Linked DNA regions of Homo sapiens: all the other regions are linked to region 2. The links come from fine-mapping of genetic effects on gene expression. A gene starts in region 2. Each other region holds a variant in brackets. All regions are shown on one strand. Distances are between the middles of the regions. Region 1 overlaps RHBDD1 (rhomboid domain containing 1). Region 2 holds the start of RHBDD1 (rhomboid domain containing 1). Region 3 overlaps RHBDD1 (rhomboid domain containing 1).

Region 1 (8,183 bases), 40 kb before region 2:
TAAATTGACATAACTTCTTGAAAAATAACTTAAACCTTCCTTTAGAAACCTAAATCTGAGACAGCCACTCTTCTCCCCTCTCAAAGAGCTGCCACAGACACCAACCCAACTCTGAGAAGACCAAAATTCCTTCTGCAGTCCTTATCCATCAGGTTATTTTTGTTGAAGGAGGTTTCTCTTCTAAGAATGACTAATTTGGGTATTGCTGAATTTATATGTCACTTGCTTATTTATATGGACTCCCAATGTATCTTTTGACCCTATATCCATTGGTTTTTATTTTCTACCAAGCTGTCAGAAATACTTTTACATTTCAAACAATTTAGAAAGGAATGTTATACTTTCATTTGGGAAAATGTATTAAATTTTATACCTCATTTTCTCCTTTGCTCTAGATAACCCTTTTTTTGCATTTTTAAAGGGTTTTACTAATAACTTTGTTTATAACTGAACAACTGTTATTAGCATTTCTGGCTCAGGTGAAGTCTAAATCTGTGAGCACACATTTCCATATACAGACAACTATCTTGAGAGCTGGCACACTCATTAGTAAGCCTCGTGAACAAACAGTACTTGTTCTAACAAAAGACAATAAATTAGCAGAAATCTATGATCATGGCCTGTTCTTCTCATTGCCACCAGAGTCCTGGCAATCTAATTCTCTCTTCCACTGAAGGCAATAAATGATACTGATCCCACACACATATTTAAGTCTAGCTTAAGCAACTAGTAGCCAGTTTAAAGCAGCATCTCTCAAAATTTTTGTACTGTGTCCCACATAAAAACTTATTTTAGACTTCACCCAGCACATATACAAACATAGCTGAAATCAAAGGTCCTTGAAATAATACTTACCCTTTCTATATGTAACACTAATATTTCTATGTCTGTTTTTTTTTTTTTTTTTTGGAATGCCAGTTGTGACACACTAAATTGATTTCACGTCCTTTTAATGAGTTAGAACCCACAGTTGAAAACCACTGATTTAAAACTCTCTTACTTGATGGGTGCTGTTGTTAGGACTCACAGTAGCACAGCAACTCAGTATGGATCTGTCCCCAAGACTCTTTCACTCCCTTCTTTTCACTCTACTCTCCCCGACTCAACACTGTCCTTTGCACACTTTTCATTCTACTTTTCCTATATTCATTCAACTCATGGTTGCCATTACCACTTCTACAGAACAAGTCTCCCCAAATCTAGTGGGACCAAAGAAACGTTTTCTTGGAGTCACAGATTCTGTGGGTCAGGAATTCAGAAGGAGCACACGGGGTGGTCGGTCTCTGCTCCATAATGTCAGCAGCCTCAGCAGAGAAAACTGGAGGTAACTTTGTGGCTCTATCAAAGGCCACACACTCACATGTCTGGCTCTGATGCCACTGATGGTTGGGCCTCTTCCTCACAGCCTGGTGACATCGGGAAAGCTGTATGCTTTTGACATGGGCTCCAGAGACAAGCATTTCAACTCACAAGGCAAGAAACTGCTTGTTTCAGAAGCAATGTGATACTTAACACTGGATTCTATTGGTTACAGCAAGTCACAAATCCACCCAGCTAGCAGAGAGGTGAACTGGACTCCACCTCTTAATGGCTGAGTGGGAAACTTTGAAAAGAACACGTGGGACTGAAGCTATTGTTACAGTTATCTTCTAAATTGCTATTAGCCATTCTCCTTTCTACAAAGAGTTAACAGTTCAAGTCCACAGTTCTTAACCAGCAATTTCAGTGATTGTATATAATTGTACATATTCTACTGCTTCCCTCTCCCTCCCATCCCTAACTACATGAAGCTCCCTTGGAAGCTCCCAGGTTGCAAATAACCATCTTTCCTTTCATACAAGCTAAGCAGTCTTCCCGTGACTAGAGAGGTAGCATCAGAGTTTAAAGCAGCAATTCTCAAAATGTGCTCTATGAATCACTAGAAGCCCCTAAGACCCTTCCAGAGGTTCACAAAGTCAAAACTATTTTCACAGCAACATTAAGACATGATCTGCCCTTTTTTTTAAGAAAAACCATGTTGACATTTACACTAATGGCACAAAAGCAAGAAGACAACTGCTGATGCCTTAGCATGAGTCAAGTGAATCAAGGCAGTGGCCCCAAACAATACCAATAGTCACTGCACTCTTCACAGACACATATTCATGGTGTTTAGGAATATCTTTGACAAAGCGGTAAAATTCCTAATTTTATTAAACACCAAGATTAGTCCACATCTTTTTAATACACCGTGTGATGAAATGTGAAATACACACAAAGCACTTCAGCTGTATAGCAAAGAAAGATGCTTGTGGAAAAAGAAAAGCACTTATGGGTTTGAGCTGTGAGATGAATGAGCCGTTGTTTTCATGGGCCCTCCCCACTTTCCCCTGCCATGTTTACTTAAAAGAAAAACTAATGAACTATGGTTAAAAAAAAAAAAAAAAAAAAGGAAAATGGCTCACATTTTCTAAAAAAATAAAGCAAGCCTTTAAGGAAAACAACTAATGAATTTGTTGTCAATGATAAGATCTGAGCATTGGAGTGAAAATTAGAATTTTGGAAAACTTCTATGTGGCACTGTGAGCTTGACAGCTTCCCAATACTTAAAGAGTTTTCTGATGAGATTGGTGGTGACATAAATAAATGTGATACTTTGATACTGTATAATTAAGTCAATATTTACAAAGTCTACATAATCAGTAAACCAATATTTCCAAATAATCAATGCATAATATTAGAAAATCATATATAGGGAAAAGATCTATTCAAACTTCAAGACAGATCAACAGATTTTAATGTTACAGAACGTGGTCAGGTTCACTGATATGGTTTCAGGTTCCACCTTGGAACTAATCTTAAGCAACCACCACATGCCAAATTAGTAGTGCAAAGAGGGATATCCACGATTACCTGAAAAAGCTACTAAAACAATCCCTCTTACCCTTCCCAAGTACATACCTGTATGAGGCCAAACTGACCTTCAATCAAAATGATATAGCTCTAGGAGTTAACACAGAAGCAAATATGGGAATCAGATTTTTTTAATTAAGCCAAACATTAAAAGTTTTGCAAAAAAATTGCCATTCATCTCATTTTGTTTGAAAACTACATTAATTTTTCATAAACTTATCTATGTGAACACATATTGTGCTTACTGATATTTAAAATGAATTATTGATAAATTATGTTATGAATGTTAATGAATTATATTAATTTTTTTTAATTCTTAGTTTTAATTTCCAATATGGTAAATATTGATAGCTATAACCCACATAAACCAAAACTCTTTGAGGTCCTCAATAATTTTCAAGAGTCTAAATGGGTTTTATGATCAAAAGTTTGAGAACCACTAGTTCAGAGTATGAATTTAGGGGCCTGATTGCAGAAACTTAAACACTGGCTATCCAATGGACTAGCTGATATTTAAGTAGCTACAATAAGTTAACTTTCTGTGCTTCAGTTTCTTCATCTCTTAAGTGGTAGAAGTAATAATTACTTCTTCACAAAGTAGGTATAAGGATGATATGTGATAATATACGTAAAGAGCTTAAATGGTTTTTGGCATGTAGGAAGTTCCCAATACACCAGTCATTCCTATACGGCCCATGAACTGTCACTGGGCCTTGGAAACTGCTCTCCCGTGAGGCTGCTCTTTTCGATTCTCTCAGTCACTGCACTAGTTCTAGCCTTCAGTTTCTTCTCTTGTCTATGTCAACAGTGTAAATGGACACCTGCCACCAATTCTGCAAATCTTTATACTATTCCTGGCCTCCTGTCCTAAACCACATATTCATTCATGGCTTTTCCTTCTCAGAAACCAAAGCCGTGTGTCCATTCTGACTACAAGCATGGCCTAAATTTATTAACCTGCCATCCAAAGCCCTCTATGATTTGGCCTCTTCTCTATGGTTTGGCCTCTTCCCAACTTGGAGTTTATAAAATGCACCATGAAGAACATTTGTTCTGTACATTGCTGCATGCCAGTGCTAAAACAAAAGGGTGCTATTGTCAAGTAAACTTAGGAAACTAATTGGCAAATCCGATTTCCATCCTGCAATGTTTTCAGAATCCTTCACATGTTCATGTGCACTGTGCCCTTGCAGGAACACAGAACACCACATGAGCTGAAGTCTACTGACCAGGAAGCCCTGTTTCAGGATACATCTCAAGGAACTAGTGGTCAAAAGAACACATTTGAAGGAACACCACTAGCTTTATCTCCCAGCATTTATGGATAGATTGTGATTTCATAAATTTGCCAAGCTTCCTATATTTGTTCTTTCTCTTCCC[CT/T]TTCAAAACAAAGAGCAGTCTATCTCATCATCTGCCCTATTATTTCCAAACACTCAACATACATAGCCCTGTCCTCTGCAGCGCCTCCTAATTTCTCAAATCAGAGTTACTTTCCTTTTCTGTTCCTCTATTTTTATTGAACTAACATTCCCACCTTCTGTTCTGGTTTGGGGGGTAGTTAGTGTTTCTTTTGCTAAACTGTGAAGTCTCGATGGGTACGGAAATAGTGTATTGATTTAGGTCAACATTTAACAAGGATCTCAAAAGCACAGGCACATGAGGGAATAAACATTCTCTTTTACTAAAGATTTAATTCAGAATTGTTCAAGATTACTACCTCCTTACATTTGAGTGAGATACCAAGTTCTAAAACAATGAGATATCAGTCCACCTTACAATGGAAAGAATAAAGTAAAAATACCTGAGACAGTTCATAAAGCAATCTAGCAAGCCATTTCAAGCCAAACAGCAACCATGAAAACAACTGATGCTCCTTATCTTATGTCCATCCAACAACAAATATTTACTAATTGCCTACTTTGTGTCAGGCAGATGGTTAAGATACAAAGGTAAACAAGAAACAGCCCCTAAAGAAGCTCATAGCCTAGAAAGAAAGTGAAAAACACAGATTAATTATGATGGAGGAAGGGCTTACGGTAGATAAATCTACAAACACTACAGAAGCAAAGACAAAGAAGTAATTAACACTGCCTGGAGGAATCAGGGGAAGTAGCATACAATAGATACTATGTGATTTGGGTTTTGAATAACCAGGAATTCACAAGGAGACAATAAAAGGCATGCCAGGGAGAGGGAAGAGAGGCGCACACGCACAGGCTGAGACACATGGGATTGGCATTCTGAGTTTGAATTTCCATCACTTTCTATTTTTTGTTTATGCTGTAGTAGGCTGAATAATGGTTCCCCAAAAGACATCTACATCCAAATCCCTGGAACTGATGAATGTAACCATATATGGCAAGGATTTAGCAAGTGTGATTAAGGATCTTGAGGTACAGAGATCATCCAGGATTACCAGGGTGACTCCTAAATGCAATCACAAGTGTCCTGATAAGAAAGAGACGAGGGATATTTAACACAGATAGAAAAAGGAGAAGGCCACATGACCCTGGACACAGAGATGGAGTGATGCAGCCCCAAGCTAAGGAATGGCAGCAGCCACCAGGAGCTGGAAGGAGTAAGGTAATAGTTTCTCCCCTACAAACTGCTCTAGAGTCTAGAGGGAACTCCACCCTGACAACACCAACTGTAGAAGGAATTTGTGTTATTGTAAGCCCCCAGGTTTGTGGTACTTTGTTACAGCAACAATAAGAAACTAATAAAGATGCTGTCTACTATCTGCCTCCAATACCATTTCCTGACATCCATAGAGAACACCAGAGTAGCCTCACATTCTTTGTCCCCCAACCCTACCTCCTACAGTCCTCCTAGGTAATGGCACTGTCCATGCAGATAATCTTCCTGATATGATTTGGCTCTGTGTCCCCACCCAAATCTCATCTTGAATCATAATCTGAATATACTCCTCATGTGTCAAGGGGGGTCCTGGTAGGAGGTGAGTGGAACATGGGTGCAGTTTCTCCCATGCTGGTCTCATGATAGTGAGTTCTCATGAGATCTGGTTGTTTGATAAGTGTCTGGTACTTCCCCTGTGCTCTCTCTTACACCTGCCACCATGTAGGACGACCTTGAATCACCTCCACCTTCTGCCATGACTGTAAGTTTCCTGAGGCCTCCTCAGCCATGGGGAACTGTGAGTCAATTAAACTTCTTTGGTTTATAAATCACCCAGTCTCAGATATTCTTTATAGCAGTGTGAAAACAGACCCACCCACACCTTAAACTCACAACCCCTTGAACAACTCCTTGACTACCAGGACCTTTTCTTCCTCCATGTCTCAATTTCATACCATCATAGACATTCTCAGGGCCATGTCACCAGCAAAACCAACTCCAGCATCCTCTCCTCTGACTACCAATTTCTATTCTCACAGCTTTCTCCGTTTTCAAACTTGACAAAACCTCCTATCTCTTAATTCCTCCATTATCCTGCAGTCTACAAGGCTCTTCAGCTCCATTACTTTCCCTTCCCCAGAGTCATCACTGCACCAACCCCCTCTCAACAGAAACATGCAGCTTTGCCAAGAAGCTTATGAGGCATCAGGTCCCTCACTTGCCTGGGCTCATTCAGAGCTCTGGGAGGGGTCCCAGCAACATGTTCACATGGTCATATTTCTTTTATACTTGTGAAAGTGAGATATCTTAACCACAACCTACTAAAACTGCTGTCTCTTTCCACTCTAACTCCCCCTCTGTCACACTTCCTCCCATATCAGTTGTCACTGGAGTAGCCCCAGGCATTTTTGGGATTCAGCTAAAGGGACGTTGAGTTGAGGATACATTTGGTTTGGGTTCAGCATGGTATATTTATGTGGTTTGTGGTCATTTCTGTGCATAGCTGAGTCACTGCCAGTCTTTACAGTGCAAAAATGGCTTCCAGAAATACTCTTAATGCCCACTGTGCATTTGTAACCAGGATGATAACAGGATATGCAAGAGCAGCGGTCCCACAGCACTCTCAAGTGTCCTGTGGCAGCTAGCACTTGCAGTAAAGTCATCATGCTGGAATCAGGACCAGTGTCTGGAAAAATCTTCCAAACACCAAGCATGTAAAACTGTAAGAAGAGGACTCACTTCTCATTCATATAGTCAAAACTGAAATTAGAGGCTCTCCCACATCAGGAACATATATGATAATGCAGTATATGCAATTATAAATGTACCATGTTCCTTTCCTTTTTGGAGAATCCTGCAAACTAACTTTATCAGAATTCCTGTGTTTATAATTCTCAAACAAAATTATATGCAAATCACATCAGAAAGTGTAAACAAATAATCAGTAGGACTTTGGCTTTCTGGCAATGAATAAAGAGGACTGCATCATAAGAACATTAATTAAGTACTTAAATTACTTGCTGATTTAAGAACAAAGTAGATCAATGAAGAAAACTAAAACCTGCACTTTGCCACTAAAGGTCAATGACAACATTTGATTCAATTCAAAAAACATTTGATATTGATCACTTCACAAAAACTTGAAAAGTACTGAAATTTTACAGCTTGCCTGTAAAAAAAACATTGATAGAGGCTTTCCAAAGTTGGACAGTGATTCTAAAAATTTACATGATGAGCTGTGAAGAAAGCTCTTCTAAACTCTTAATAATAGAAAACTAATTTTGAGCCACCATGATGTTCTCTCTACGGAAATACTATTGCCAGGTTATTTTCATATGAAAAAGAGATCAGAAAGCATGCAGCAAAACCTGTCGGGGAAAATATTACAGAGGTGTGTCAGGGAATTAATATTATATTATTTGTATGGATTTAATAATGTTTATAATATTTGTCAGGTCTTAAAATTTTATGAACTGTCTTTCCCTTTCTCATTTAAAATTTTTACTTTTTTCTGCAATTTTGTACTTTTTTCCTAAGGAGAACCCATAAAACCAAATAAGCTTGAAGTCCATAAAACTAAGACCAGCCTTTGACAAACATTCATCTTCCTCAATTCCTTGCCTTGGGGTCTTAACCCCCAACTCTGGATTAATCTCATCAAACAAATATAAAAGGCATAACCAATGAAGAAGTCATCCTTTATAATTCCCCCTAAAATAAACAATCCAGACAAGGATAACCACTGATCTAGACAAAAAGTTACTGGAAACAAGTTATCCGCATGATGTCCAAGTGTCACCTCATATAGTACTTGCTAATTCCAAAGGGATAAAGGTGCCCTTATAATGGAGACTACCTTAACCAAGTAATTAAACTTGTAATTCCTAACATAGGAGCCACCTGGCATGTATGTCCTTCCTGACGTAATGCAACA
Region 2 (8,183 bases):
CTAACAAATACTTAGCATTTGAAATTATTTTTCTTATGAAGGCTCATTATTAACTAAAAATTAACTCTAAAAAAACACTTTACTATATAAATATAGAGTAGTTGCTTCCATACAACAAAAAAATGATAGGGCTATAAACACAAGTAATACACTTCCTTTGACTCCTTGTTTCTTTTTCCCCGAGTCATTTGTAATCCTAAACAACAGTCAGTTAAAATGCCAAATAGCTTTTAATAGCGATACAGCTGTCACAACTTGGAGGGATTTTTTAAAAAGCTAATTCCTCAAAAAAGTGCACAGAATCCTACTTTGTAAAATACGGGTCAGGTGGGTTTTTTTTTTTCTCAATAATCACTCACTCCTCTGCATGAGAAGCCATCCATATGGTGACATGGCTGACAACCTTGGAAATTGTCTTCAGAACAAGTTTGTGAATCCCACTTACCAGAATTCTTAATACCATTACGTTTTAGGTATAGCTCATGCCCTGAGGATTTCTATTCCACCACAGAGTTTCACGTCCAGCTCCCCGGAATCCGAGGTTCCCTAGGCACGCCTCCTAATATCGCTGCCAAGGACCAAGAGCCTGTGCCCTTCAACCTCACTGTTCTTAAAGCTTCTCGGCTCCTGAGTTTTACAGGTAAGATTCTGTTTAAGAGGCTCCCTGTTGAAAAAAAATATGAGGTCCATTGCTTACGTGGCTATGACTGCAACATAAAAGGAAATCTACCTTTTAAAGAATCGCTTCCGTTTTTAATAGTTTTTTTAAAGAACATTTACATATACATGTACGTATCTAATTTTACATATATAGAAAATTTCCTTTTATACTTGGTCCCCACCCCCATATTCCAATATACTGACAAATAAAATTATGACCTAGTGTGAGTCAAGTATTTTCTGCACTCATACATTCATATACAATATAAACACACAGAAATACATGTAAGAGATTTTGTTATCCCTTATTAAAAAATGTAATGTAAAACTTTTCACTTTGCTATTAAGAATTCGTGTTTTAAAAAAATATTAGCAATTTCAGGGCTAACAGCATTTTCTCATCCTTTGATGCATACCTTCAACGAGGTCTCATTTCCTGTAACAGTGTCCCCTTCTCTAGCTGACTGTCCCCATTAACTAACAGAAGATACTTTATTACTCATCCCCTGACCTTTGGATGTTTACCTTGCTGTAAACATCCAAAACAATTTCTACAAGTTGCTCTGTTACAGTGATAAAACTGAAGATGGTGTTTTTTCACGTTAAAGTTTCAACTTTTTTCAAGTGTTTGTTTTTTCTCATTCACAATAATATGAAAGCTTTGACTCCATTTCAGCATTTTATGGTTAAAAAGAAAAGCAGTGCAGTTAGGTAATAAAATTACCTCATTTATAAAAATATTATAAAATGAATGGCATAAAGTTAGGTTTGAGACAACAAATACCTTTTTTCCCTTTGTCCGACACACAACATTTACTGAGCCTCTGTGCCTAAAACAAGGTGGACGTGTTTTATGCGTTATTTCATTTAATTCAATGGCCTGAAGTAGCACATCCTATGACTCCTACTTTACAGAAATTCAAGTGGGGAGGATGTTAATTTGTCTAATGTACACAATCACTAAGTAGCAGAGGCAAGATTCAGAGCAGGGCTTGTCTGACCTAAAACCACAGATAGCGATCTGCCTCTCCGATGAGGAGAACAAAAAAAAATATTTAATGCCTTCGAAAAATAAACATTTCATGATGGGGCAGTGCCAATTTGGTGGCAGAGCTAACGAAATTATTTCCAGAATAATCCATTCAAAGTGACTTATGTTTATCTGAAAACTCTCTCAATATCCAGGAGCCATGGTATAGCCTTGGGAGCAGCGTGCTCTCATCAAAACGACATGTGTAGGCCACGGTTTGGCACTGACCTTCTCAACATTGCAGTGAATGTAGCCTTTAGAGCAGCTGCTTTAAATCCTGAATATTTCTTTCTCCCCCTACAATGGACCCCTGAAAGAGATAAAGTTGTAAGAAAATACTGCATCTAAAAAACACAGCAGGTTGAGGGCACTCCTGTGATCCTTCCTGAAAATGGAGGTATCTAGAGTAGACATGAGATCTTTGCTACCGTGGAGTTGTACGACATATGGGAAACAAAGATAAGGACAGAAACATATTCAGCCTTGGCTTTCGCTTGCAAGTCACTATGTTACAATAATTCTCAACTCTAAAACTAGTGCTTACCTCTGGTCTTTACCAAATTCTGGGTCAAAGAAGGTATAACTAAACTGAAGACGAGGCAGGTGGATTACCTGAGGTCAGGAGTTCGGGACCAGCTTGGCAAACGTGGTGAAACCGTCTCTACTAAAAATACAAAAATTAGCTGGGCGTGGTGGCAGACGCCTGTAATCCCAGCTACCTGGGAAGCTGAGGCAGGAGAATCGTTTGAACCCTGGAGGCAGCGGTTACAGTGATCCAAGATTGCACCATTGCACTCCAGCCTGGGTGGCAGAAAGAGACTGTCTCCAAACAAAGCTGAAGAGATCAGAAGGCCAAAGAATTAAAAACTACTCTTCAACATAAATACTAATGCTATTCTTAAAAATCCTACAACCACAATAGCATTAGTATGCACTGCTTTAACTTTTAACTGAATATCCTGCATCCAACAACCTTGACTACACAGAATTGAGAATCCCGAGGTAAACAAAATACCCTCTAAGCAGCAGTCCCAATATCCATGCGCTACAGCTCATATCTACCCCGCTGAAGAATCCTTCCAGCACAAACTATGTACTTATTTTATGCAGTTCTAATAAGTTACTTAATAACATCTTTGAGGGTTTTCTATGTGTTTTGTGTTAAACATTTTTCTTGCATCTTCATATTCCAGCCCTGTGAGGTAACATGTCCAAGTTTTTCCATCTAGGAATTACTTCAATTCAAATTCCATTATATGTGATTCCACAATGGGTGTTATCACTACGCCATTAATTCTCAAACTTTAGCGTCCAGGTGCATTGGTATCAACTGGAAGGCTTGTTAAAATATATTTCTGATTCAGTAAGTTTGGGATAAGACCCCAAAATGTGCATTTCCAAGAAGTTCCCAAGTGATGCTGATCCTAGCGTCCTGGGATTATTTAGAAACCAATGCACTTCTATTCTTCTTTGAAAGAATACTTGCTTTCCACAGCGACGGCAGGCCTGCAGCAAACCAGAAGCCTTTAAAGTTTATTAGAACTACCTCAAAAAGACACACAACTGTGAGAAATTAGATAAAGCCTTCTAATAAGCAATTTCAAAGAGAAAAAAGAAAAGCCTGGGAGTCACTGAGTGTACTGCAGAGACCCAAACACCTCGATAATTGAATCATAACTAGGCAGGCACTCATTCATTTTGACAGTAACGCTGAGTCTTCAAAAGAGTTTATGCTCAGTTTAGAAAAACAAATAAGGCTGTGATCCGTTTCTTGTAAACGTTTATCCAAAGGTTTTTAGGGGTTGGACAGAAAGGGTTTACTTTGGCGGATTTTTTGTCCTCTAATAAAAGTTATTACTGCGGTGAGGCTTAGACTTGTTCTGAGAAACTGAAAGCTGTCCCGAGAGCACCTGAAACTGCATGCTCTGTTGCTGATGCAACGTCACTTCAAACTTCCTGCTTTCAAAAGGAACCCTTTAAACTCGCTCAGCGCCAACCCCTTCCTCCGAGTGTGGGCACGTCGTTCCCGTGCGGTCCGGCGGAGATGCGGCAACTTCGACAAGACCCCAGGTGGAGTTACCCCAGGAAACGCCCTCCCCGCTCTCGGACTTGCCCCGGACGGGGAGGCTGTGCCTCCAGCCCCGCCATGCCTCCCTCGCCCTAGCCCCCCGGGAGGCGCCGACCTCCGCCCAGCAGCCCCAGCCCGGCCGCCAGCTCCCGCAGCCCGGGGAAACGGCGAGAGATGCCGCTCACAACCAACGACAGCAGCCGGACCAAACAGACGCGGAAACTCACGCTCTCTACGACCCGCCTGCGTCCCCACGTCTTCGCGCGCACGTGCGTCATCACGCACGTTCCCGATCCGGGGCGCCCCGGGTTCCTGGGGCCGGGTGCGGGAGGGGAGGGCCTTAAAGCGGACGGCTCGGCCGCGGCGCATGCTTAGTTGTGCGCGCCCGCGCTCTGCTGTCTGCAGACCGCGTGCGCCGGCAGTGGCTCTAAGGGGGCCGCGAGGGCACAGCGGGGCAGGACCGCGGCAGAGCGCAGTAAGGAGAGTGTGGACCCTCGCCCTGTCCTCTAAGCTCCATGTGAAATGTGGATAATATTCCTTACTGCCATAAATAGCCACTGGCCGCTGACTACGCGTAAGGCAAACAAGCGACCTGCGTTCAAGGGACCCGAAGACTAGGGGAGAAGCAGCGAGCGGGTCGCGGCCGCCTACCCAACGGACGCCTCTGCCCAGGTTCTCTGCCGGGAAGCTTCGTCCTTCCGGGCCCCAGCGCAGCCGGAGGCTGGGGAGCTGCTGCCTGGAAGGGTCAGATACCGCCTGTTAGGCGGAGGGTGGGAAAGACACTCTCCTGCTTCAGGAGCTATCGCAGACAACCGGAGGGCGGCTTATCGCAGAGTCCCAGAGCCAGCCAGCAAGGCAAGGTCGCGGGTGCACCTTTCACTCCCAGAAGCTTGGGTCTGGGACTGCACCACGCAACGTTTGCCCATTTTGAGGGCTTTAGGTGTTTCATATTTCAGTTAATAGAATTTCGATTAATACATAATTTGATACCATTTTAATTGTTTGCTACTCGGGAGCAAGTTTTATGTTTAGCTGTAGGAGTTAGGCTAAGTTAAATGTTGCAATGCTATATATATTTAATAGGATATGAAAAAACTATCTTACAGCCGGGCGCGGTAACTCACGCCTGTAATCCCCGCACTTTGGGAGGTCGAGGCAGGAGGATCGCTTGAGCTCAGGAGTTTGAGACCAGCCTGGACAACATAGTGAGACCTTGTCTCTATTTAAAAAACAACAACAGGCCTGGCGCGGTGGCCCACGCCTGTAATCCCAGCACTTTGGGAGGCTAAGGCGGGCGGATCACCGGAGGTCAGGAATTCAAAACCAGCCTGGCCAACATGGCGAAACCCTGTCTCTACTAAAAATACAAAAATTAGCCAGGCATGGTTGCGGGCGCCTGTAATCCCGGCTACTCGGGAGGCTGAGGCAGGGGAATCCTTGAACCCGGGAGGCAGAGGTTGCAGTGAGATCGCGTCCATGCACTCCAGCCTGGGCGACAGAGCATGACTCTATCTCAAAAAAAAAAAATCTTACTATTTGGTATGGAATTTTCTGATAGCTAGGGTAAAGATGCTCTTTTTCCAAGAAGGAATCCGAGTATCCGAATACAGGTGGTTTAGTGTTACTCTTTGTTTATTGGAAGTTGTAGCAGCTGTGTTTAGATAGTCTGCTAAAACAAAAACTGCCTAAACCAGAAGAGTTTATCTTTTGCCATTGTGTATTAAAACTCTTCATAGAAATATTTATTTTGGAGTTTGAAATTTAAGTGAAAATGTGGCTCATGCATAGGTGTGGGTGTACATATGACTTTCAAGTGACAAAGAAGATTCTTAGCAAATTGTACGTGTTCATTAAGACTCATAAGTTACCTCTTTCCTAGAAAAACAATATACTCCTCCAAAAGCTCAACTGACAATGAGAAACTGCATTTCTGGACATGAAAAGTCAAATGAATGCGGGGAAAAGTAAATTGCCTATAGAGGTATTTTCTGTATTTCCCTAGAGGGGGAAATGTGTAATTTCTCAAAAGGAAGAAGTCCTCATTTATCCTTCTGAACCACAATCATATGAATCCATTCAATTAATATTAATCTTATCTTCTATTCTCCATCACTCTCTACATCTTTCTATAATTGCATCATTTTCTTGTCCGTATAATACATCAAATGCAGAGGTGATTTTAAGGGAGCCACAAATCAAGAAGTCTCAATTCAATAATTTCGTTAAAATGTAAGAAATATATACGGATTAAGAATATTCTTAGGTAATTATGTTCTGTTTCAAATATCAGTGAAAATTTTCATAGACATTTAAGGGGTAAAAGACATTTAACAGATAGAAAAAAATATCTACCTTTTAAAAAATGACCTTCTCTTTTGTCCTACGTGATTTGTTGAGCAGACTGGGTTTTTTAAAAGTTTCTGTTGAAATGAGCATGTTGTAACATGCTCATATCCCATTTCAATTGACAAATATCACTTGGATAATAATTGTATATCTTAAATATGAACATATGAAGCAATCAGCAGCAGCATCCTTTCACTGAGCAAGGCTTAAAAATACCAAAGAATCAGTGCCAGAAGAAATTCTTTAACTTAAAATATACGTAATCACTACATTACCATATAAAACAATGATTTCTAAATGCTGGAAAGTATATATCTTAATCATGAGACGAGGCAGCACTATGCACATTGTGCATAATATGTGAGACATTGAATGGTATAAAATAAATTTTAACTTTTATCTAAGGTTTACAGGAAAAGCAGCAATACCTATGATTAAGCCACCCGACTTAAATGAGTGTTTTTAAGATGTGGTGCTTGCACATAAGCGGAGGAGTGGTGGTAACAACCCTTGTACAGTTCACAAATCCAGGACTGGCAGGAAGGTAGACAAGTGTCATTCTCAGATTTCAGAACCCAGCCTGAAAGTGAGAGGACGTCAGGCAACAATACCATGCAACGACAGCGTGCAACAAATACACAACTGGATTATCTTTTTAAGGGAGAAGCTTGTTTGGGTTTCTAATTGCTTTTAATGAACCAAGTATTGATTACTGTTTTACCCAAAACTGTACCAAAATATGTGTAAAACTGATAAGATAATTTATAGCTTTCTAGTTATGGAAAAGCTTGCAAATTAAATAATTCAAATCTCAATTTAAGAACTGTAAAAATGAGAAATTGGTTCATGTACCATAGTGATAATAATACCAACAATACTTAACAGTAGACTATGCAGACACTAACCATAAGAGATTTGTAGTGGCTATACTAATATCAGATGAAACAGACTTTAAGAAAGAAATTTCTTTTTCTTTTTTCTTTTTTTTGAAGTGCAATGGCACAATCTTGGCTCACTGCAACCTCTGCCTCCCGGGTTCAAGCAATTCTCCTGCCTCAGCTTCCCAAGTAGCTGGGATTACAGGTGCCCGCCACCATGCCTGGCTAATTTTTTGTATTTTTTTAGTAGAGATGGGGTTTCACCATGTCAGCCAGGCTGATCTCAAACTCCTGACCTGATGTGATCCACCTGTCTCGGCCTCCCAAATGGGATTACAGGCCAGCGCGTCTGGCTGACAAGAAATATTTTTAGAGACAGAAATTCCATACTGATAAGAGGGTCAATACATTGAGAAGATATAACAGTTATAAATGTATATGCACCCAGTAACAGAGCCCTAAATTCATGAAGCAAAAATGATTGAATTGAACAGAGAAATATACAAACAACAGTAGTTTGATATTTCAGTATCCTACTCACAATAATGTGTAGAACAACCAGGCAGAAAATCACTAAGTATATAGAAGGCTTGAACAAGACTCTCAACCTAACCAACATGTACAGACCACTGTACTTAATGACAGCTGAATTTATGTTCTTTTTAAAAAGTATACTCTCCAGGATAGCCTTATGTTAGACCATAAATAAGTCTCAGTAAATTTAAAAGAATTGGGATCATACAAAGTACATTCTCCAGTTACAGTGGAATTAAATTAGGGATTGACAATAGAAAGAAATTTGGAAAATCCCCAGATGTTTGGAAATTAGATTACTCATGGGCCAAGGAAGAAGTACTAAAGGAAATTAGAAAGTATTTTGAAATGAATGAAAGTGAAAACATATTGAAGTCATGCACTGCAGCTAAAACAGTGATCAAAAGGGTATTTAGTCCTTTAAACACCAAGAAAAAGAGTCTCAAATCTACACTTCCACCTTGAAAACTAGAAAAAGAGGAGGAACGTAAACCTTTAGCAAAGGGAGGAAATAATGATCATATTGCAAATCAATAAAATAAGTAACAAAAATAGAGAAAATGAAAATCAAAAGTTTGTTTTTTAGAAAAAAAAAAAAACCAGTAAAATTAATGAGCCAACATTAAACTGGCCAAAAAATTAAAAAGACCAAAATTAGGAATCAAAA
Region 3 (8,183 bases), 140 kb before region 2:
TGAGGACCAAATGAATTAAAGGATATGAGCACCTGGGTCAAAGCAATGAAAGGTAAGTGGTGCTGACTGTTACACTAATGACCCCCTTTCCAGGCTGCCCTTCTCAGAAATGCCCCCACTATCCCTCTGGTTAGTCACACAAGCCCAGACCCTAGAGTCTTCCTTGACACCTTCCTCTTCCACTCGTCCTGTCCCCAAATTCAATCCATCAAAACCTGTCATTTTAACCTGAACATTCCCAAATTTGTCCATTGTTCTCTATCTGTCCTGTCACCAACTATGTTTGAGTCACCTGTATCATGGGCCTAGACCAGTGCCTAAACCGCTGTGATGGTTAATGTAGGTGTGAACTAGACTGGCTTGAGGGATGACTAGATGGCTGGTGAAGCAGTGCTCCTGGGTGTTTCTGAAAGTTGCCAGAGACTGACCGACATTCAAGTCAGGCGACTGAGAGAGGAAGATGCGCCCCAATGTGGGTGGGCACCATCCAGTGGATTGCCAGTATGGCTAGAACAGGGCAGACGGTAGAAGGGTACCCAGCCTGCTGAGTCTTCTTGCTCTTCCTCTCTCCTCCTGTGCGGGATGCTTGCTTCCTCTCCTCCTGCCTTTGAATATGATGAGCCAGCCAAGTAAAACGGGCTCCTAGAGAATCTCCAACTGACCTGTGCAATGGGAGGATGGGGTGGGGTCTCGGGAAGTTCCAGCCATTTGCAGGGGGGAGGAGCCTGGCCCCTCCTGTTCCTGGGTGGTGACCTGGGATTCAATTGGTGAGATGGGGGCCTGTTAACAGGAACCATCTTGCTTTGCTGAGTTTTTTCCTTTTTTCACCCAATAAATTCTGCTTTTCTCACCCTTCTATGTGTCCATAAGCCTTATCTTTCCTGGTTGTGTGACAAGAACCTAGTTTTTAGCTGAACTGAGGAGAAAGTCCTACAACAATGAGACTGCAGTTTCTTCAGCTCTTGGACACTGGGACTTTCAGCAGTGGCCTCTTGGGGGCTCTTGGGCCTTGGGCCTCAGACTGACGGCTGCGCTGCAGGTTTCCTTTGTTTTGAGGCTTTTGGACTGGGAATGAGCCACACGAATAGCTTCTTTCTTTCCCCAGCCCGCAGATGGCCTATCATAGGACTTTGCTTGTAATCACTTAGCTGATTCTCCATAATAAACTCTTTTTTATACATACCTACATCCTATTGGTTTCTGTCCCTCTGAAGAACTCTAACACAACCCTAAACCATTTCCCCACACTCGCTCCTGTCTTCCTACCAGCCATTCTCCACACAGTAGCTGGGAGAGCTTTTCAAAAACAAACATCTCTCCTTGCTTCATGTCCTCTAGCTCTTGGCTCAAACACAACTTCTCCAGGGAAGTGACTGTGTCCTCTGATCACCCCCAGTGAGGGTCCTTTGCCTGAAGCTCTCACAGGATCCCCTCCCTTCACAGCACATGATGCCATGGTTAGTGATTACTCGTGAATCTAATCATTTTGACAGCGTGCATTCTCACTGCGTTGTGAGCTCCATGGGGGCAAGGACAGTGAGGGTTTATGTCCACATTCTATGCCTGGGGATGAACAAATAAATGAACAAATGCAGGAATGGAAGGAGGTGTAGAGTGCTAAATATTGCCTTCATTATACAGATGTAAAGACTGAGGCTCGACGTAGGTGGGCAGTTTCTTGAGGTCTCACACCAGAAAACGGTATGGTCCATATGTCCAGGGGTCAGATCCAAGCCCAGCACTCTTCATATTCCGCCAGTTTGCTTTGGACACCAGTACACACATGTTTCCCTTTACCATCCAACCTTTCTCTACTCCAACTAGTGGCTTGGCAAAAAATTAGAGATTTTTAATGGGGGGCTAGCAGGCTATAGGAAGGGTTGTAATTGGTACATGGAGAAAAAAGAGTACAAATTGAATATTTGAATTTTAAAAAAAAGATGATCATGAAAAGGCACAAAATGTGTTGCTGTTTAGTCCAAGTGTAACAGCGTTCTAGAATTGTTTCTATGGATCTGAAGACAGATTAAGGGCAAGTGACTTGGCAAAAGGCCTAGACCTGTTTTCAGATAATTATCTCACAGTAGAAAAAAATAAGGGCAGTACAAGCTCCAGTGAGGACACTACACCAACATGACAGATCTAAATGGAACATACTTCTATGAGTCATTTATAGCTTTAAATACTATAGAGAAAAGAATGCATAAAACATGCCCAAACAGCCTCTTTTTGATGTGGTGAACTCTTTTAAAACCACATTGTTCAAATTTACGTTAAAATGCAAACTCTTCATGTTTACAATGGTACTATTGGAGGAACTCAATATAAAAGTACAACTGTTACATTCCAAAGACAAGACTTAGAACAATAGGCCAATTCCCAGTGTGAATTTATGAGCTGCTAAACCTCAAAAGATTTCTTCAATTAGCAATGAAGACTCTTGACATATTTGCAGCCTGATATAGGGGCTGCTCTTTATATAATTTGGGGTGTATCAGAACTTTTCCTTACTTTTATTTACCTCGGATGACAACTATTATGCTTCTCCCTGTGCAGCGTTTGATCCTGCTAATTATGCTACAGGGCCAGGATGGTGTTTCACGGTTCACCATTGCTCCTGGGGCAGGCTACAAATTATACATAATGCACTGCATTGTAATTGCTGCATTGTGAACTTTGCTCGCCTTTCCAACACAAAATACCGACATCTAAGTTGTTTTATTATTAAAAACCATAAGGGATTCTTTTGGATTATAAACATCTGAAGACGTAACATTCTCATGAATTCCAGCCGGCTATTTCGGACACTCAGTGGGGCAGACAAGGCTGAAAAGCAAAGCAAATACACTTCATATTTGTGTTTACAGAAAAAAAGGAGGCGGCAGTCATGAAGGCAAGACTGTGTTAAATGCAAAACTAAAGGGAGGGGGAGCTTGCCGAAGGGGAGACACAAACTGAACTGGGAAACCAGAGACGCGAGACATCCAATGATGCTCCTTGACTTCTCTGGGCCTCAAGTTCCTCATTTCCAGAACAAAGGCACAGAAACAAATGACCAAAAAGATCCCTTTTTCCATGAAGACAGGCATTCATGAGAGCAGTGGCTTGTTTCTGAGTCTCACTTGTGAGGCCAGCCTTATCCCAGCCTGAAGGGTAAACCAGGAACCCGAGTCTTGTGCCAGACAAGAGGCCTCTGCCATCCACCCTGTTTGTTTGGGGCCTCTAAGAAATAGATAATGGCTCTTTCAATGGGAGGAGGGGGTCAAAATAAATGAAGCCTCAGTTTTATATATAAAATGCCACCAAGTGGGGAAAAATATCAGAGCAGTATTGTGGTCACTGAAATTTATCACTGCCCTTGTGACCCAGGGCCAAGAGGCCTCACTCCAGACACCTACCCGATAGGCCCAAGTCATAGTACCTTGTGCCTGCAGCACTTAGAAGCCACACCCAGGCCCCGTTAAGGTACTCCTAACCCTCCCTTCTCTCCTCCTCTCAAAATGAGACAATAGCCTGATGTGTGAAGTTGGACTGGGGTCTCTTCTCTTCCTCTAAGTGTTCTAGATGAGCTTAAGGTAGCAGCAGCACCACACGGAACTGTGTGCATTCTTCATCAGTATACGGTGGTGAGTCTCCTACACAGTGAAGATGGGATAGTCAAAGAAGAGGAAAAGGCAGGGGAGGGTTTCCAGGTAAGGAGGCGTGGGTAAAGCTCACACATTTTGATAATTTACAACAAATTGTTACTATATTGGGGTACTGCTCCTTTGATGTTGCTGCATGTCAAAGCAGCTGAAGCAGACGTCTCGACTTGGACTTGGGAAGTCACTGACTAGACATCCTCATTTCTCTTTGTCTAGTGGTGTCTCCAGGGGGGTGGGCATATCCAAGATCTAGTATGACCAGAGGACACAGACAAGGTGACAGAGGACTTAAGTGACAATGGACAAGAGCTCCACACCTGGACTGCCCCAGAAGCCCTGCTTGGCTGCTAAGTTTGGGCTGGCCTTGAGGGAAGAGCAGGCTGTGCTCTCACACCTTCCAAGTGTCCCTAGTACCAAAAACTTGGGGCTTTGTACCTCTGCTCCAATCCATACTGCACATAGTCTCCAAACCAAACAGCCAGGACTTGTGACCAGACAGGCCCTGCTATGCTAATGGGGGCAGGAGACCTATTTTCAACTGGAACCATGAGTGTGACTGTTCCCCAGATCTAGATACAGAACACAACAACCCTGGGGCCACTTACATTACTCCTGCAGCCAAATGCACTCAATCAGAACCCTCAGAGGGACAAGGTAATCTTGCCTGCTATCTATTGGTGACAATGAAATCTTGCTTTTGTGTATTATCTCTTTTCAAACATTTTCTAAATAATCTGTAGTTCCTAAGCATCATCATAACTTTTAATATGTCAGTACACAAGGCAATACTTAAGGAGTTTATGTACAAATCATTGTCGAAAATTCCAAGCCTAACAGATTTTAATGAGTTCCTTCTGCATGTAGAAATAAATGTATTTCCCTGCATTGGACAATAGTTTGACGCCATCTTTAAATCCAAGCAGATTCCCCTCTTCTGTACCAAACTGCCCATTTCATTAGGAGGGCTAATAAGGTTTTCTATCATCTGAGTAGGACTGGCCTGGCTTCTGGGTGGCCCGAGGGGGAAATAAGAATGAGGAAAATCAAGAAGTTGCTCCCTCTAGGAGTGGGGCCCTCCCTCACCCCATGGCCATTCTGAGGAAAGCAAACTGTCATTGAGTTCGGGCCTCCCTCACCTCCAGCTTTATTGAGGTCTAATTGACAAATAAAATTGTATAAGTTTAAGGTGTACAACGTGATGATTTTATATATGTATTTATAGATGTGTGTGTGTGTGTTTGTGTGTGTAGTGAAATGAGTACCACAATCAAGTTAATTACCTCAGGGGCATCGATTCCACCTTTTCTACATGGTCCTGTTATGAAGAGTTTCTCTTTATTCTCATTTATCATTCTGGGGCACC[A/G]TATTAAATCTTGGGAGGCCCTAGGAGAGCTCAGATCTGAAAGATTTTATATTAGAAATGGAACTGCCAACTAAATGGAAGGAGGAGCTGGTGGTTTTAAAAACATAATTTCCTTGCTACCCACTAAGAGTCCCAGTTCTCTCCACGTACCAAGGAGTCACTGCTGCTGATTCACGTGTGGCCATCAGAGCAGTGGAACTAGGCCTCATCTGTGCCACAGGAGCACAGCCTGGAAGAGATACATGGCCTGAAAATGGTAATGGGAGCACCAAGATCTCCAGGATGTCCCTGAGCCACGCACTGGCGAGGTACCTGAAAAGAGTGATCTCCAATTATACGATGACACCGTGAGCACTGTATGGTTCACGACTCTCAGCACTGTACAGTTCACGACTCTCAGCCTGCAGGGAGTATCCACCCTGCTCTTGGGTGCGGGACACTAAAGAGGATCCTGGTGCCTGGAAATCTATACAAATCACTTCCACAGGTACCTTCCCATTTATTTTAGAACCAAACCAGAAGAATGTAATAACTAGATGTCTCTTTTGTACATCCTTGTTCAACGAAAAAGTGACTCTAAAGAAGTTAATACCTTGACAGTCAGGACTAAAAAGAGCAACACCCAGGCCGGGCACGGTGGCTCACGCCTGTAATCCCAGCACTTTGGGAGGCCAAGACCTGTGGATCATGAGGTCAGGAGATCGAAACCATCCTGGCTAACACGGTGAAACCCCGTCTCTACTAAAAATACAAAAAATTAGCCAGGCCCAGTGGTGGGCGCCTGTAATTCCAGCTACTCAGGAGGCTGAGGCAGAAGAATGGCGTGAACCCAGGGGGTGGAGCTTGCAATGAGCCGAGATCACACCACTGCACTCCAGCCTGGGCGACAGAGCGAGACTCTGTCTCAAAAATAAAATAAAATAAAATAAAATAAAAAAAGGGCAACACCCATACAACACTCTGGGCTCAAGTCCCTCTTCAGCGGAACCTTCCCACATTCTATGCACAGGGCAGAGAAGACTCAGAATGCTAATTATTTCTTTGAAGTGTTACACCGAGTGCTGTGCAAAAAGGAATCGCAGGTGAGACAAACGCCGGCCATCTGTCAAAGCCTGACAAACTGGGTAAGGAGGCAAGCATGTGGAAAGGCGGTGAGGGGCACTGGGCCTCTTACCCACAAAACCCTCAAGCTCATTGCAGAGAGGCAGCCACTCTGCTATCAAAGAGCCCATGCGAACGAAAAGGAGATTCTCAGGGGTGGGCAGCCAGGAGGATGAACAGGCAGAATCACAATTCTAACACACAGTAGCCTTACTCATGGGCTCCGGAGTTGTTCTAACGCTCACAGGAATGCTGCAAGAAAGATACGACCTACTTCACTTCTGCTAGTGAAGGAGGCAGGTCAAGGCTCTTCTCATCTGGTTTTCACTTGCTCAGACAATAACAATGATAACAAAATGCTTGCTGCTTCCAAGAATGAACATCTCCATCTGTTTACTCTTGATCTAACTTACCTTTGTCTCTGGAAGAAAACAATTCAAACATAAAATGTTAGAGAGGTCCTTGCTAAGGGGACTAGGCAGGGAAGAGAGTGAATATTACATCTAGGAATCATTTTATGAACTACTCCTAAGGCAGTAGAGCTTTGCTCTTGATCAGTAAACACCAATCTTAGAATGGGGGCAGTTGGGTAAATGGCAAAGCCAATGAGGAAACAGAGTGGAAAAAGGAACAGGCAAACACTCACTTCCCAACTTTCCCAGATAATGAGCCCAGACATCTCCCCCAGGCACCCACTTCTTGGTCACCAGCATCTCTAGCACAGGAAAATGTCTTAAACAATTTTTTTGAGTAATGATTTCCTTAACTTGATGCCAGGCAAATCTCATTCTTTCTCTGGGAAGGATATACTTTGGGATTCCTGCTACAAATTAAATGGTTTGGATGAGTTTGGAAGAAGATCATTTAAGGACAATCAACACTATATAGTTCCGTACACACACATACACACTGCAAAAAGGAAATACTGAAAGTGAACAAGAACCCCGAGGCTGAAGTCCAGGGAGGAACTTCTGTGAGGAAGGATGGCAGCCACAGGGCACAACCCAAACTCAGGTAGGGCTCTGAATCTCTACTTTGAAGTCCAGGCCTACCAAGAAATTAAAACATAAATATAGAAAATCATATAGCAGTGGGGGAACCTGCATGGTTTTTTGTTTTTTTTTTTTTTTTGCTACAGGCTTCCTTCCTTTCTTTAACTTTAGTTGATAAATGGAGGGATTGGGCCTTCTAAATACATGTGGTAACTTGTGTACTTACCTATAACCCAACCAAAAACTGACAGAAACCAAAACATTTCAAATAGACTTCATGAAAGGCACCCTTAAACAGCAAGAGCTTGGCCGAGTGTGAGCAGAGAGCCCCTGGACTCGAGAGACCAGTCTGTGCCGTTCACTGTTGTGTCACTATCATAGGTGTCTAGTCATTATTTGCTGAATGACTGACTCAAAAAATTTCATAGATGGAGGGCAAGTTCCACCATTTCCAGCTCCTGCCTTGACCCAGAAGCTCCGTCCATGAAGCAGCACTGCAGGGTTTTGAGTGTGGCCCACGTCTGCCCTGGTGCCATCTAGTGACCCTGGGAGTCCAGATGAACTGGGTGGAGCAGCCTTCCCAGGCCCACTCATATGGGCAGACCCCTTTTTCCAGGGGGCATAGCAGGGCTGAGAAAGAGGAGGATGGCTCTGCTCTTTAGGTAATCCCTGTCTCTCTCTTCCCTCCTCTCATTTAGCACCTTTGTGTTTCTTTCTTAAGAAGTGGGCTTTTTCCATCAATGATTGACTGGATAAAGAAAATGTGGCACATATACACCATGGAATACTATGCAGCCATACAAAAGAATGAGATCATGTCCTTTGCAGGGACATGGATGAAGCTGGAAGCCATCATTCTCAGCAAACTAACACAGGAACAGAAAACCAAACACCGCATGTTCTCACTCGTAAGTGGGAGTTGAACAATGAGAACACATGGATACAGGGAGTGGAACAGCACACACCAAGGCCTGTTGGGAGTTAGGGGGCAAGGGGATGGAAAGCATTAGGACAAAGACCTAATGCACGTGGGGCTTAAAACATAGATGACGGGCTGACAGGTGCAGCAAACCACCGTGGCAC

What was found. PIP is the estimated chance that this variant, and not a neighbour inherited with it, causes the effect.
Region 1: its variant is fine-mapped to the expression of RHBDD1 in monocytes (TOPMed, PIP above 0.99).
Region 3: its variant is fine-mapped to the expression of RHBDD1 in whole blood (TOPMed, PIP 0.94).

What each region holds. Positions count from the first base shown.
Region 1 is chr2:226,871,798-226,879,980 of GRCh38, reverse strand. The region is part of intron 5 of RHBDD1 (rhomboid domain containing 1); the gene reads right to left. Among named protein-coding and RNA genes, the nearest start is that of RHBDD1, 40 kb to the right of the region's middle. The variant CT/T (reference allele first, on the strand shown) is at 4,273.
Region 2 is chr2:226,831,890-226,840,072 of GRCh38, reverse strand. RHBDD1 (rhomboid domain containing 1) reads right to left here and starts at 4,019. Exons shown (of 9, transcript NM_001167608.3): 1 at 3,986-4,019; 2 at 1,919-2,000; 3 at 446-664. RefSeq lists enhancers at 3,507-3,656, 4,497-4,566, 4,406-4,700 and a silencer at 3,707-4,236.
Region 3 is chr2:226,971,986-226,980,168 of GRCh38, reverse strand. All of the region lies in intron 8 of RHBDD1 (rhomboid domain containing 1), which reads right to left. It also overlaps a transcript of COL4A4 not described here. Among named protein-coding and RNA genes, the nearest start is that of RHBDD1, 140 kb to the right of the region's middle. The variant A/G (reference allele first, on the strand shown) is at 5,008.